Linked DNA regions of Homo sapiens. The protein of the gene in region 2 purifies or fractionates together with the protein of the main gene of each other region. This does not show direct contact. Each region holds a gene or a part of one and is shown on either strand. Other genes may lie near its edges. The genes, in order: SLC25A14, SPOCK2, EME1 and TPRKB.

Evidence for each region.
Region 1: the proteins of SPOCK2 (region 2) and SLC25A14 purify together in Homo sapiens (affinity purification with mass spectrometry; one large-scale study listed by BioGRID and IntAct). This does not show direct contact.
Region 3: the proteins of SPOCK2 (region 2) and EME1 purify together in Homo sapiens (affinity purification with mass spectrometry; one large-scale study listed by BioGRID and IntAct). This does not show direct contact.
Region 4: the proteins of SPOCK2 (region 2) and TPRKB purify together in Homo sapiens (affinity purification with mass spectrometry; one large-scale study listed by BioGRID and IntAct). This does not show direct contact.

The regions. Positions count from the first base shown.
Region 1 is NC_000023.11:130,363,919-130,367,418, forward strand, and holds part of SLC25A14 (brain mitochondrial carrier protein 1 isoform 1 precursor), read left to right. Parts: intron 1-709; coding exon 710-834; exon of another isoform or gene 835-1,622; coding exon 1,623-1,758; intron 1,759-3,500. UniProt on the Homo sapiens protein: Transports inorganic anions (sulfate, sulfite, thiosulfate and phosphate) and, to a lesser extent, a variety of dicarboxylates (e.g. malonate, malate and citramalate) and, even more so, aspartate and glutamate and tricarboxylates.
Region 2 is NC_000010.11:72,061,543-72,064,551, forward strand, and holds part of SPOCK2 (testican-2 isoform 2 precursor), read right to left. Parts: intron 2,699-3,009; coding exon 2,636-2,698; intron 1,621-2,635; coding exon 1,483-1,620; intron 1,364-1,482; coding exon 1,218-1,363; 3' UTR 1-1,217. UniProt on the Homo sapiens protein: May participate in diverse steps of neurogenesis. Binds calcium.
Region 3 is NC_000017.11:50,376,229-50,379,105, forward strand, and holds part of EME1 (structure-specific endonuclease subunit EME1), read left to right. Parts: intron 1-2,366; coding exon 2,367-2,453; intron 2,454-2,545; coding exon 2,546-2,667; intron 2,668-2,839; coding exon of another isoform or gene 2,840-2,877. UniProt on the Homo sapiens protein: Non-catalytic subunit of the structure-specific, heterodimeric DNA endonuclease MUS81-EME1 which is involved in the maintenance of genome stability. In the complex, EME1 is required for DNA cleavage, participating in DNA recognition and bending.
Region 4 is NC_000002.12:73,729,373-73,731,859, reverse strand, and holds the end of TPRKB (EKC/KEOPS complex subunit TPRKB), read left to right. Parts: intron 1-1,123; coding exon 1,124-1,300; intron 1,301-1,830; coding exon 1,831-1,917; 3' UTR 1,918-1,987; downstream 1,988-2,487. UniProt on the Homo sapiens protein: Component of the EKC/KEOPS complex that is required for the formation of a threonylcarbamoyl group on adenosine at position 37 (t(6)A37) in tRNAs that read codons beginning with adenine.

The DNA.
Region 1 (3,500 bases), on a different chromosome or scaffold from region 2:
GAGATAGAGTCTTACTGTATTGCCCAGGTTTGTCTAGAACTCCTCCTCAAGTGATCCTCCTGCCTCACCCTCTCAAAGTGCTGGGATTACAGGCATGAGCCCCTGTGCCTGGCCTTCTTTTACTTAAAAGAAAAATCGTTATAGCCATCCTAGTAGGTATGAAGTGGTATGTCCTTGTGGTTTTGATTTGCATTTCTCTAGTGACTAATGATGTTTAGCATCTTTTCGTGTGCTTATTGGCCATTTGTGTATCTTTTTTGAAGGAAATATCTTCAGGTCTTTTGGCCATTTTAAAATTGGATTGTTTGCCTTTTTTGTTGTAAGAGTTATTTATATATTCTTGACACTAGTCCCTTATCAGATATATGAGCGGCAAATGTTTTTTTCCTTTGTGTATGTTGACTCTTCACTTTCTGAGTGGTGTCTTTTGAGTCATAAAAGTTTTTAATTGTGATGAAGTCCAGTTGATCTTTTTTTTTTCTTTTGTCTTTTGTGCTTTGGGTGTCATATCAATTATTTTATTTTTAGTATAGCAAGTGAATTGGAAATTTGTATATGTTCCATTATTAGTCATTGATTTGAAAGAGTGACGTCTGTACTTCAGACTTGTATTTTTCTGTTACTTTTCAACTCCTGACCTATTTTGTTCACTCTAAGACATCACTCCCTTTGTATTTCCTTGGTGCCTAATGTCACTTGTGTTTCGTAGGGTGTGGTTCCAACTGCTCAGCGTGCTGCCATCGTTGTAGGAGTAGAGCTACCAGTCTATGATATTACTAAGAAGCATTTAATATTGTCAGGAATGATGGGCGATACAATTTTAACTCACTTCGTGTAAGTAGGATGGGATGTGCTCATTTTATTTCCAGCATTTTGAGCACAAAAAGCCTCTTTTACTGAAATCCTCAGGTGGAATTTGATAACTGGTACGTATGGCCTAAATTCCCTTGTCTCTCCTATTATCAGAACTTCAAGCCTTATGAACACTTTATACTTCACAGAAATGCCAGGTGCTATGGGGGCTTGGGTACTTGGGAACATTGTCTAATACAGCAGCCTATCAGAGGTCTATTTGATTTACATTTATCCATACATAGCTTCTATATCTAATAAGCACATCTATTATTTGCTTTGGTTAATTTTGTTTGAGAAAGCAAACTTTTCTCAGTGGGAATCAGAAAAAAAGGGGTAAATAAGGTCTGTGAAACTAAAGCACAGTTTTTTGGCTAAAGACTGTTACTGATCTCATTTTACATTTTCTTTGTCTTGCAACCTTTATGATAATTTTGTTACTCAAATGCATTTGGCATGTGATGCTGTGGTTTGAAAAATTTATGTAACTAATACATGGTGCATGATACTTTCTACTTAGGAATCTTGTTAGGTTTAGAAACTCTCCTTTAAAAAAAAGGCTGAGTTTCAGATTGAAAATTGAAGGGACAGCCTTTGAATGATGTCTCTTTAGAAAAATTTCCTGTCTCTTTAGATTGTAACGAAAGGCCAAGTGCCAGGTTTTATCTGATGGGTCTGAGTTATATTGTACAGTTTACGTTTGGCCTAATTTCTGTTTAAGTGGGCAGGGAGTGAAAGTGGGGTCGATCTACTTAAACTTTTCCTCTTAGTTCCAGCTTTACATGTGGTTTGGCTGGGGCTCTGGCCTCCAACCCGGTTGATGTGGTTCGAACTCGCATGATGAACCAGAGGGCAATCGTGGGACATGTGGATCTCTATAAGGGCACTGTTGATGGTATTTTAAAGGTAAGTACATTGTGGATTTGGGTTACAATTTGGCTTTCTTTGATGTCTTAGACCTTCCTTCAGTTCTTATTATTAGTTGCTACATACCATTTTGAAGATGAAAGAATCATATTTTTTTAGTAGCTTCTCAGTTATTCCCAGGTAGAAAAGCTGTCTCCTTAGCAATCTGCTAATTTGCAGTGGTACTTAATATAATGATTCCCATTTGAATGCTTTAAAATACAGGATGCTTTTATTAATAGTATCATGTAGAATTATTGATAGAAAAGACAATATATCCCCCATTTGCCTACTTCATACAACACAGAGACCCTGCAATAGAAAACTCAATACTTAAGGAAAAAAGCCTGTATTTTATTTCAGTTCACGGTTATGCTGTTGTTCACTTTGGCTTTGAAAGTTCCTGCTGTTGTGTTTGTGGGAACTGAATATTCTAAAAGTATTACATCATTACTGGTGATATTATTGCTACTGAAAACAAATTGAGGCTAAAATATGATGTTGCCATATGGTTTCTCTCCTGTTATCAGTTTTGTTTAACAACTATTACATATTAGACACCATTTTAGTAGTTAGAGAGAAATTACAGTTATTACAAAAGTACTATAGGTATACAAACGGATCATCAGTACAGCCTGATAAGTGATAAACTCAAGAGTTCTCAATTTGGAAGCATTGAGGTAGGCTCCCTGTAGATGGTGGCATCTTGAATAACAATAACTCATATCCACTGAGTGCTTTTTTGTGTGTCAGCAACTGTCCTTATGAGACTTATGTGTATTCGTTCATTGAATCCTCACCATTACTCCACGAGGTAGACACTGAAGCACTGAAAGATTAAGTAAGCTGCCTAAGGTTTCACAGCTACTAAGTGGGAGAACTGGAATTTAAACTCAGATCACTTGACCTCAAACTGACATTTACCTCTCCACTATGGTGCTTTCCTCATATTGGTGGCCAAGGGTTAGATTATAAAGGATACTGAATGCTATATTGAGGTGCTTGGACTTTTTTTTAACTTGTCAGGGAGCTGTTGAAAGTTTTTAATCAGATTAGCTTTGCATTTTAAATAGATTACTTTGGCTTTATGGAGACTGGATCTACCACAGTGGTTCCTCATCTTGGGTACACATTGGAATCACTTGGGAGAACTTTCGCAGCTCCCTCCTCTACCTTAGACCAATTAACTCAGAACCTGGGGAGTAAGGTCCAGGTGTCAATATTTTAAACTATATCAGGTGACTGCAATGTTCACCTAAGGTTGAAGACTACTAAGGGGATAAGCCTGGAGCCATGGTTCTTCAAAGTTTAACATGCATCAGAATTACCTGGAGGGCTTGTTAAACTGCAGTTCACTTGGAGCCATCTCCAGATTCTGATTTAGTAAGTATGGAGTGGGACCTGGAAATTTGCATTTTTAATAAATTCCCAGGCAATACTGATGTTGCTAGTCTGGAGACCACACTTGGAGAACCACTGACCTACAGATAGGGAAGCTGATTAGAAGGCTCTTGTAATCTGAGAAAGAGGGGATGAAGGCCTGAACTTGAGCATGATAATGGAGATATAGAAGGTGGGACAGAGTCAAGAAAGAATTAGTTGATAGAGTCAGCAGGATTTGATTGACTGGATGTGGAGGGGTGTGGGAGAAAAGAGGTGTCAAAGATAAGTTCTGGGTTTTTGGAGTTGGTGACCAGGTGGTGACATTCATTGACAGAGGCATCACAAGAGGAGCACGTCTT
Region 2 (3,009 bases):
AGGGACAGCTCTCTCTGTTGGTCTGGGCAGGACAGGAGTGTTAAGGGTCAGGGAGGAGGTGGGCACACACCCCCTTAGCCTAGACCCAGGCTCCTTGCCTGCTGCTCCTGGCCCTCAGGCGCCCTCAAGTGGATGAGGGGACCCCAGCAAGGGGGATGGAGGCAGGAGTTGCACCAAGGGGGAGCCAGGCAGAGGTCAACTGTGTAACCACCACCCAGTGTCCCCAAGAGAGCAGCCCAGATCATGGCTCCACCACGAGACCCAGAGAAAAGGGACAGGCTATTCCAGGGTCTAGGATTCAGAGCTGCCCCATCTCAACACCTAAAAGCTCCCCCAGGCTCTGCAGCCACAGCCTCCTCCTGCTGAGCCGACCCCCTCTCCTCACCCTGTTCTACCTGCACCACCTGGGCCACCTGGGACAGACCTCAGACAGCTTGGCGAGGCACCCTGTCCCTGGCCTCTCAGCTGCTGCCCTCCTCCTCTGCCGCCACCACCTTCATTCTCCGCCTTGGGTTAGGAGAGCTTCTCTAGTGTTTGGGGATCCGGCAAAGGGACAGGGCTTGCTGTGGCTGGGCGTCCTGGCCCGTCTCATCTGAGGCTGGTGGGGATGTCACACCACATCGGCCCAGTTTTGGGAGGACCTCAGCTGGTAGACAGCTCCCTGCCCCTCCCTCCCCTTTGCAATGGGGACAGGCTCGCAGGCCAGAGCTTGACCTCAGAAGCAAGAGGGAGAAGGGCAGACAGGGGTCGGTTGAGCCAGGGTAGAAACCAAGGGGAGCCAGGGTAGAAACCAAGGGGTCAGGGCTGGGCTGGAGGACACGGCTGGGGGATCTCATTTCATGGATTTTGACCTGTCAATTTGTATTTGTGTGTGAATGTATTTTAAAACCAACAACAAAAGGAAAGAAAACAGCTACAAGGAGGCCGAAGGGGCCTTTGGGTGACTCACTCTGCCAGGAGCAGTGTGGATCAAGGACACATTTGTCAGCGCATGCCACACACACACACACATACACACATGCATGCACACATGCACTCACACTGTCACCCGTCCCAGCCATCTGTGCCACACACATGCCATGCACACTCACACTCCCAGTCCCCCCAGGTGGAGCAGGGTCCTTCTGACTGCATTTCTGGATCCGTTCTCGAAGTTGCCTGCTGCTGCTCAGAGCTCTGCTGTTGAGTCCCCCCCGGCAGCCGGCTCCTGAGGGCGTCTACCAGATGTAGCCCCCGTCGTCAGCCTCGCCTGCCTCGCCCTCCTCCTCCTCGGCCTCCTCGCCTGCTTCCTCCGTCTCCTTCTCCTCCTCATCCTCCCAGCCGACACCGCTTCCAAAGTCCCCCGAGAAGCCCACGATGTCATCTGTGAGGGGATCAAGCCAACAGGGGGTGAGGGAGCTTCTGGCACGCACCCCCCAGCATCCCACGACAAGGGCCCCCAGGCCTGGGCCCCCAGCAGGCCCTGAGCTGCCCAGCCCGTACCGCAGTCGGGGCTCCCATGCGTGCGCGTGCCAGTCAGCTCCAGGCCCAGCTGGTCCACACACCAGCAGTCACCGCTGCTCTGGTCACACTGCATCTTCCGGTAGTAGCCATCCTCGTCGCAGCTCGGGATGAAGATGCCTGAATGAGACAGTGCCAGGCAGGGTCAGAGCAGGGGCCCAGGCTGTGGGCCCCTCAGAGAGGTGACCTCAGGTCCTCATGCATGAGCAGAAGTCTATACACCCCCAGAGCCCAGCCAGACCGGGTGCTGACCCCCCAACAGGCCCAGATGCTGAGAGCTGGACACCAGCCAGCAATTCTTTCGGCTCTACTCGCTGGAGATGAGGAAACCCGCTTCCTTGAACCACTGCTCAGGCCCCTGTGCTAGCTCCCAGCCGCCCCATCAGTTTCCCTGACTCCATGGCCCAAGTCTTCTAGGACAGCCAGTCTGACTTCACCAGGTTTGACACTCTCCATCCTCCCACAGTTCCGCCGGCCTGGCTGTCCCCTGCTAGGAAGGCCCAGCCTTCTCCTCCCAGCCACTCTGAGTCCGACCTGCCTCCGGGGCCCACTTGCTTTCCTGCAGGCTCCCCAGCTGAAGCTCCCAGGCGCCTGTGTACAGGTCACACTGCTAGTTCTGTCTTTTTAGTGTGTCCATTTGTGTGTTGTGTGTTTCCGGACTGGCCCGAGCTAAAGGGTTATGAGGCCAGGGAGTGCATCCTTCTTGCCATCCGCTCAGAGTTGGGCTGGGTCTATTGCTGTTGTATCTCTGGGGCCGGCCCCCAGGTGTTTATGGAGCATGTGAGTGAGTGTCACTCAGGGAGTGGCCTCACTAAAACATTAGTCACACCCTTGCTGAAGGAAACTGAACTCAGTGGAGGGTTCCAGGATCCTTCTGTATCCCAAACTCTAGCTCCAGCATGGATGGGCATAAAATTAGTGCCTAAAACACACTTTTCCCGGGGCAGATTGGGAGTCCCTGCCCCACCACAAGGATAGACACAGGAAGGGGGCAACCCTCTTCTGTCTTCCTAGGCCAGGGCCTCCTCTGGGCTCCATGTCTGCCATGAGGCCCAAGGCTGGAGGCCCTGGGTCTCAGACAAACCCAGGAAGCCGTCCCCACCTCCTCCTCTGAGAGCCTGGTCTGGCCCCTCACCTGGCTTCTTCTTGGCGGCCTCCTGGATCTGGATGCGCTCCAGCTCTGCCAGGCAGGGGGGCTCTGTGGGGAGAGAAGCAGCCTCTGATGGGACTGTCCCCTGGTGCTGGGGGGATGCACTGAGCCCTTCAAGGCTTAGAGACCCAGGCAGGGGCTCTGCAAGATGAAAACACCCCGTTTCTGACACGGGGTCACCCCACAGCAGGGGTGGGAAGTACAAGGGTTCTATGGCACGAAAACGCTCACTCTCTATTTAGGGGAGCTCATTCCACAGCTGTGGATGACCTGAGGTCCCCAAGAAGTCCTAGGGACCCATGAGAGGAGTAACAGGATTCAGAAGAGGAGGTGGGGTGAACACACAGACACCCAAGTAT
Region 3 (2,877 bases), on a different chromosome or scaffold from region 2:
TCCCCTTACAATTACAGGATAAATATGCTTTTATTTTAAAGGATACTTATCAGGGCCCCAGCAGGAAGACAGATGGCACATTCAACTCAGGGTAATTAAAAGAAGATTGAATAAAGGGACTGTTTGCCAAGGCATGGGCAGGGTATGAGGAAACTACCAGTGACAGCATGGTACCTCACAGTAATAACAGCACAACTTAGGTTTTTCGACCTCAGTATTGTTGACATTTTAGATTGGAGAATTCTTTGTTTTGGGTGCTGTCCTATGATGTGCACAATGTTTAGCAGCATTCCTGGCCACTATCTACTAATGTACCCCTCTCAGTCATGACAATAAAAAATGTCTGCAGACACTGCCAGATGTCATTTGTGGGGAAAAATCACCCCCGGTTGAGAACCATTGGCATAGCTGTTACCATCCCTATGCCTGAAGGGATGAGGGGAAGGAGTGGTTAACAGAATTCAGGAGAGAGAAATGGAGAGAGGACCACCTTGAGCGAAGCTATGAGCTGCCACAGAGGGGGACAGCAAACCCTAGGTGACCCCACTGGGAGGGAGCCAGGGGAAAAATACCCTGACTTCACTTTTCTCCTTCCCACTAGTCCTCTCCTCGGGTCCCTGCTGGTGACACCCAGCTGGGAGCCAGAAGACATGTGGGCCCTGTGTTTTTTGTAGAGATTGCAGAGTGTAGCTTGTATTTTTGGTAGAGACGGGGTTTTGCCATGTTGCCCAGGCTGGTCTTCAACTCCTGAGCTCAAGCAATCCACCTGCCTCAGCCTCTCAAAATGCTGCGATTACAGGTGTGAGGCACCTTGCCTAGCACTAAGATTCTTTTTTATCTCACCAGAAGCATCTTGTATAAAATAAGAAAAAAGATTTTTTTTTCCTCTCTTTGATTTCTTTTTTGGATCTGATAACTTTCTCAGTAACACAGGACAGTTCCCCACACTTTTTACTCTGGGGGTATTAGCAAGCCTTTATATTCATAGAGCAGCTTACCCTCTCAAGGCACTCCCACATTCTCTCTTGTGTTTCCATCAGTCATCCTATGGGGTAGGACTTCTCCCCACATCACAGGTGGGGAAACTGGGGCTCAGAAAAGTTAAAAGCCTTGTTGAGGATCACAACGGGAATGAGAACCCAGAGCTCCCCAAACCTACACTTTGCTGTAATATAGGTCTTGCTTTGCTTATAGGGACCCAATCAGAAAACTTTCTATCAAAGTCCTGTTCCCCAATTACTCCATAATACTGTACTGCTGGAGGATTGTTGGCCTTGAGGCATCCTTGACTTTGATTATGCCCTACCTGTGATAAACAGGAGGTACTCTCATAGACTGAAGTTTCCCTTGTGATTCTTGTCTTTGTCACAAAAAAACCTATCTGTTTGTAAGGACCACTCGGCTCACAGCATCTGCCTTCAAAGCCAGAGTCATTTACTTGTACTAACCTTTGGAAGAGTTTCCCTTCCCTCCATTCCCGTATTCAAAATGGCCCCAGCCCCTTTCAACTTGCTATGTTCCTTTTTTCTCTCTTTTTTTTTTTTTGAGACAGAGTTTCACCCTGCTGCCCAGGCTAGAATGCAATGGCATGGTCTCGGCTCACTGCAGCTTCTGCCTTCTGGGTTCAAGTGATTCTTCTGCCTCAGCCTCCCAAGTAGCTGGGATTACAGGCGTGTACCACCACGCCCAGCTAATATTTTTGTATTTTTAGTAGAGACGGGGTTTCACCATGTTGGCCAGGCTGGTCTCGAACTCCTGACCTCAGGTGATCCGCCCGCCTAGGCCTCCCAAAGTGCTGGGATTGGGATTACAGGTGTGAGCCACCGTGCCTGGCCTGCTATGTTCCTTTTTTTTTTTTTGATGGAGTCTAGCCCCGTTGCCAGGTTGGGGTGCAGTGTTATGATCTCGGCTCACTGCAACCTCCACCTCCCAGTTTCAAGCAATTCTCCTGCCTCAGTCTCCCGAGTAGCTGGGATTACAGGCACGTACCGCCACACCCAGCTAATTTTTGTATTTTTAATAGAGATGGGGTTTTACCGTGTTGGCCAGGATGGGCTTGATCTCCGACCTCGTGATCTGCCCACCTCGGCCTCCCAAAGTGCTGGGATTACAGGCGTGAGTCACCGCGCCCGGCTGCTATGTTCCTTTCTTATTCACTGTCTCTGAGATGCAGGGCACCAAGACTGAATCATTGAGGGCTGGGAGGGACAGCGACACTGTTTCTTGCCACAGTGACTTCATTCCAGAAAGGATAATGCATAAGGGGTGGGAGTTAGTTCATTCACCCAGAAGACCTGGGCCACTCTCACAGGTGCTCAATACCTGCTGACCTCCCTCCCTGTGCTGTGTTCTGGGTACTTTGGCAGGACAGAGAGGACTGGGTGGAGGAGCCAACAGTACTGGTGTTGCTCCGGGCAGAGGCATTTGTGTCCATGATCGACAATGGAAAGCAGGTGGGCAGAGCCAGAGGGTGGGAGGACACGGAACAGAGGGCTGACTCTTACTAGGAAGCAAGTATTAATGCAGTTTCTGCCCCTTCATGCAGGGAAGCCTGGACAGCACTATGAAAGGGAAGGAAACGCTTCAGGGCTTTGTAACTGACATCACAGCAAAGACAGCAGGGAAAGCTCTGTCACTGGTGATTGTGGATCAGGAGAAATGCTTCAGGTTTGGATTTGCCCTGGTGATTTCATGTTAAAAGGGGCAGCTCTTGGGCCAAGGGGGGTGAGTTTAGTTTATTCATTGCAGATGTAGGTCACTCTGCAAGGTAGTCCATCTCTAACAAGTCCAGGGGGATGCTCTGGTCCAGTCTTCTTCTGTATCTTCTGCCTGACTTCAGCCTGGAGCTGCTGTTCTTTGATTTCCTCCCCTGCACCA
Region 4 (2,487 bases), on a different chromosome or scaffold from region 2:
ATTAGGCGTGGATATTTTGTGTGCTAGCCTGCATATCATTCTCTCTTCCCGTAAACTCCTTGAGGGTGGGATCCATGTCTTTTTCATATACCAGGAACTTGCTTGTACCTATAACAGTCCTTAACACAGCCTCACTCACACACCCAGTACATAGGTAGAGTTTGTGGTTTGAAATACTTATAGTAATGCTTTTTCAATGAAAGTTATCAAGCTAAAGACATCACACATGTAGCACATGAAAAAAATGACTGCAATTTTGCTGATGAAGTTTTAGTATTACTGCTGCTGTTAATAACAACCAGGTACTAATGTCATCTACAGGAAACCTGTAGCATAGGTTAAAATACAGATGATTGACAAGTTTATAAAATGCAGTTATCTCAGCATGGTAATAGAGATTCCCAGTACCTGGAATAAAATTTACTAATTATGGTTTCCTTGAGATCATTAGACATAATTCAGAAAACTCTTGAATTCAGTAAACATCTGTTGAACTTTTTCCCCGTTCCATTTACAGTTCTAGGGGCAGAAGAGGCAAATATGTTCCTGAGGAGAGGCAGATAAACAAGACAAGTTAAAATGCCCTAAGATAAATGATATAATGGGAAAATGAATTCAAATCTAGGGGTACAGCAATGAAGCCATTCATTTTGGAGGGAGGAGGGTGTGGTGGGGAGTGGCATCAGAACTGTGGACCCTGAAGCATGTGTTCAGCAGCCAAGCCATGAGGAGAAGGGACATGCGAGCAGAGGACAAAGCTTGAGCACAGGCAGAAGGGCATGAAATGTGACTGGATCCCCAGGCAGGCTGGACTGGCCAGAAGGCAGAAGCGCCTGGCTGGAGGGCCACTTGGCACCAGAGGGAGGAGGTGTTTTTGTGCAGCGCCAAGAGGCTGGGCTTGATTCCATAGGAACAAGGCGTACCTTTAAGCAGGGAGTGCTTTTGAGGAAGTGCCAATGGATGTTGGAAAGGAATCATTAAAGTGAAAAAGTAGGCAGTGAGAACTGTTAGGACATGAAAAATAAGAGCCTGACCAAGGAAGAAGGCAGATCAGGAAATGTTTCAGACGTAGGAAACAATGGTTAATGATCTTGTGTTTTTTTTTTCATTTTTTTTCTCTTAGATTTCAGAGGCTTTGAAAAAATTTGGTATCTCAGCAAATGACACTTCAATTCTAATTGTTTACATTGAAGAGGGAGAAAAACAAATAAATCAAGAATACCTAATATCTCAAGTAGAAGGTCATCAGGTTTCTCTGAAAAATCTTCCTGAAATAATGAATATTACAGAAGTCAAAAAGGTTTGCCAGTCCATATTTTTAGAAAGAGTGTGATAGATGAGCAATAATGCTGATGCCGTTTGCCTATTGATCACCAGAGCTCCTTGTTTTTTGAACTTTTGAGAAAGTTAATCTAATTTTAAAAATTACTTAAAAATTACAGATACAAAGAACTGGGAGGTGTGATGGTTTATGTAAAATATAATTACAAACTCAGCTGACATAACCATTCTCCACATTAAGAAAGAGAATACCTTTAAATATCAAACTTACATAGTATATTTAAAATGTAAAATAAATTTAGTATGCTTTTAAAATGGATAGAAATTTGGTTTTTATGTTCTTGAGAGTTACTCCCATAGCAGCAATTTAAAGGGGATACAAGTAATGAATTGCCCTCTACTTTGAATATTTTAATCACATTTGTTGTTTGTTATACCATGAACCCAATAATTGAATGAGGAATAATTTCACTTACACATGTTTGTATAATGACAATTAGTAGTGAATGACGATATCAGCAAGTCATAATTTGTCTTTCATTTTTACAGATATATAAACTCTCTTCACAAGAAGAAAGTATTGGGACATTATTGGATGCTATCATTTGTAGAATGTCAACAAAAGATGTTTTATGAAATGTCAGAAATATTAACAAAAATTCTCAGCATTAAAGAAAACATTGATTTTCCTTTCCTGACTATAAAACTAATTGTGCATTATAGAAAAGTTTAAATCACAGAATGGTATTAAAAAAAAAAAAAAAAGGCCAGGCACGGTGGCTCACGCCTGAAATCCCAGCAATTTGGGAGGCCAAGGCAGGTGGATCACCTGAGGTCAGGAGTTCAAGACCAGCCTGGCTAACATGGTGAAACCCCATCTCTACTAAAATACAAAAATTAGCTGGGCATGATGGCAGGTGCCTGTAATCCCAGCTATTCGGGAGGCTGAGACAGGAGAATCGCATGAACCTGGGAGGCACAGGTTGCAGTGAGCTGAGATCGTGCCATAGCACTCCAGCCTGGGCAGCTGAGCGAGACTCCGTCTCAAAAAAAAAAACCAAAAAAAAAAAAAACAAAAAAACCACTTGTAGTCCTACCTCGTTGTATTTTAAAAGATAATCAGTTACTATTACTTGTTATTGCCTTCTAGAGTTCTGTTTCTATTCAAATATATTTTATTTTTATATAATTAGAATAAAAATTGCA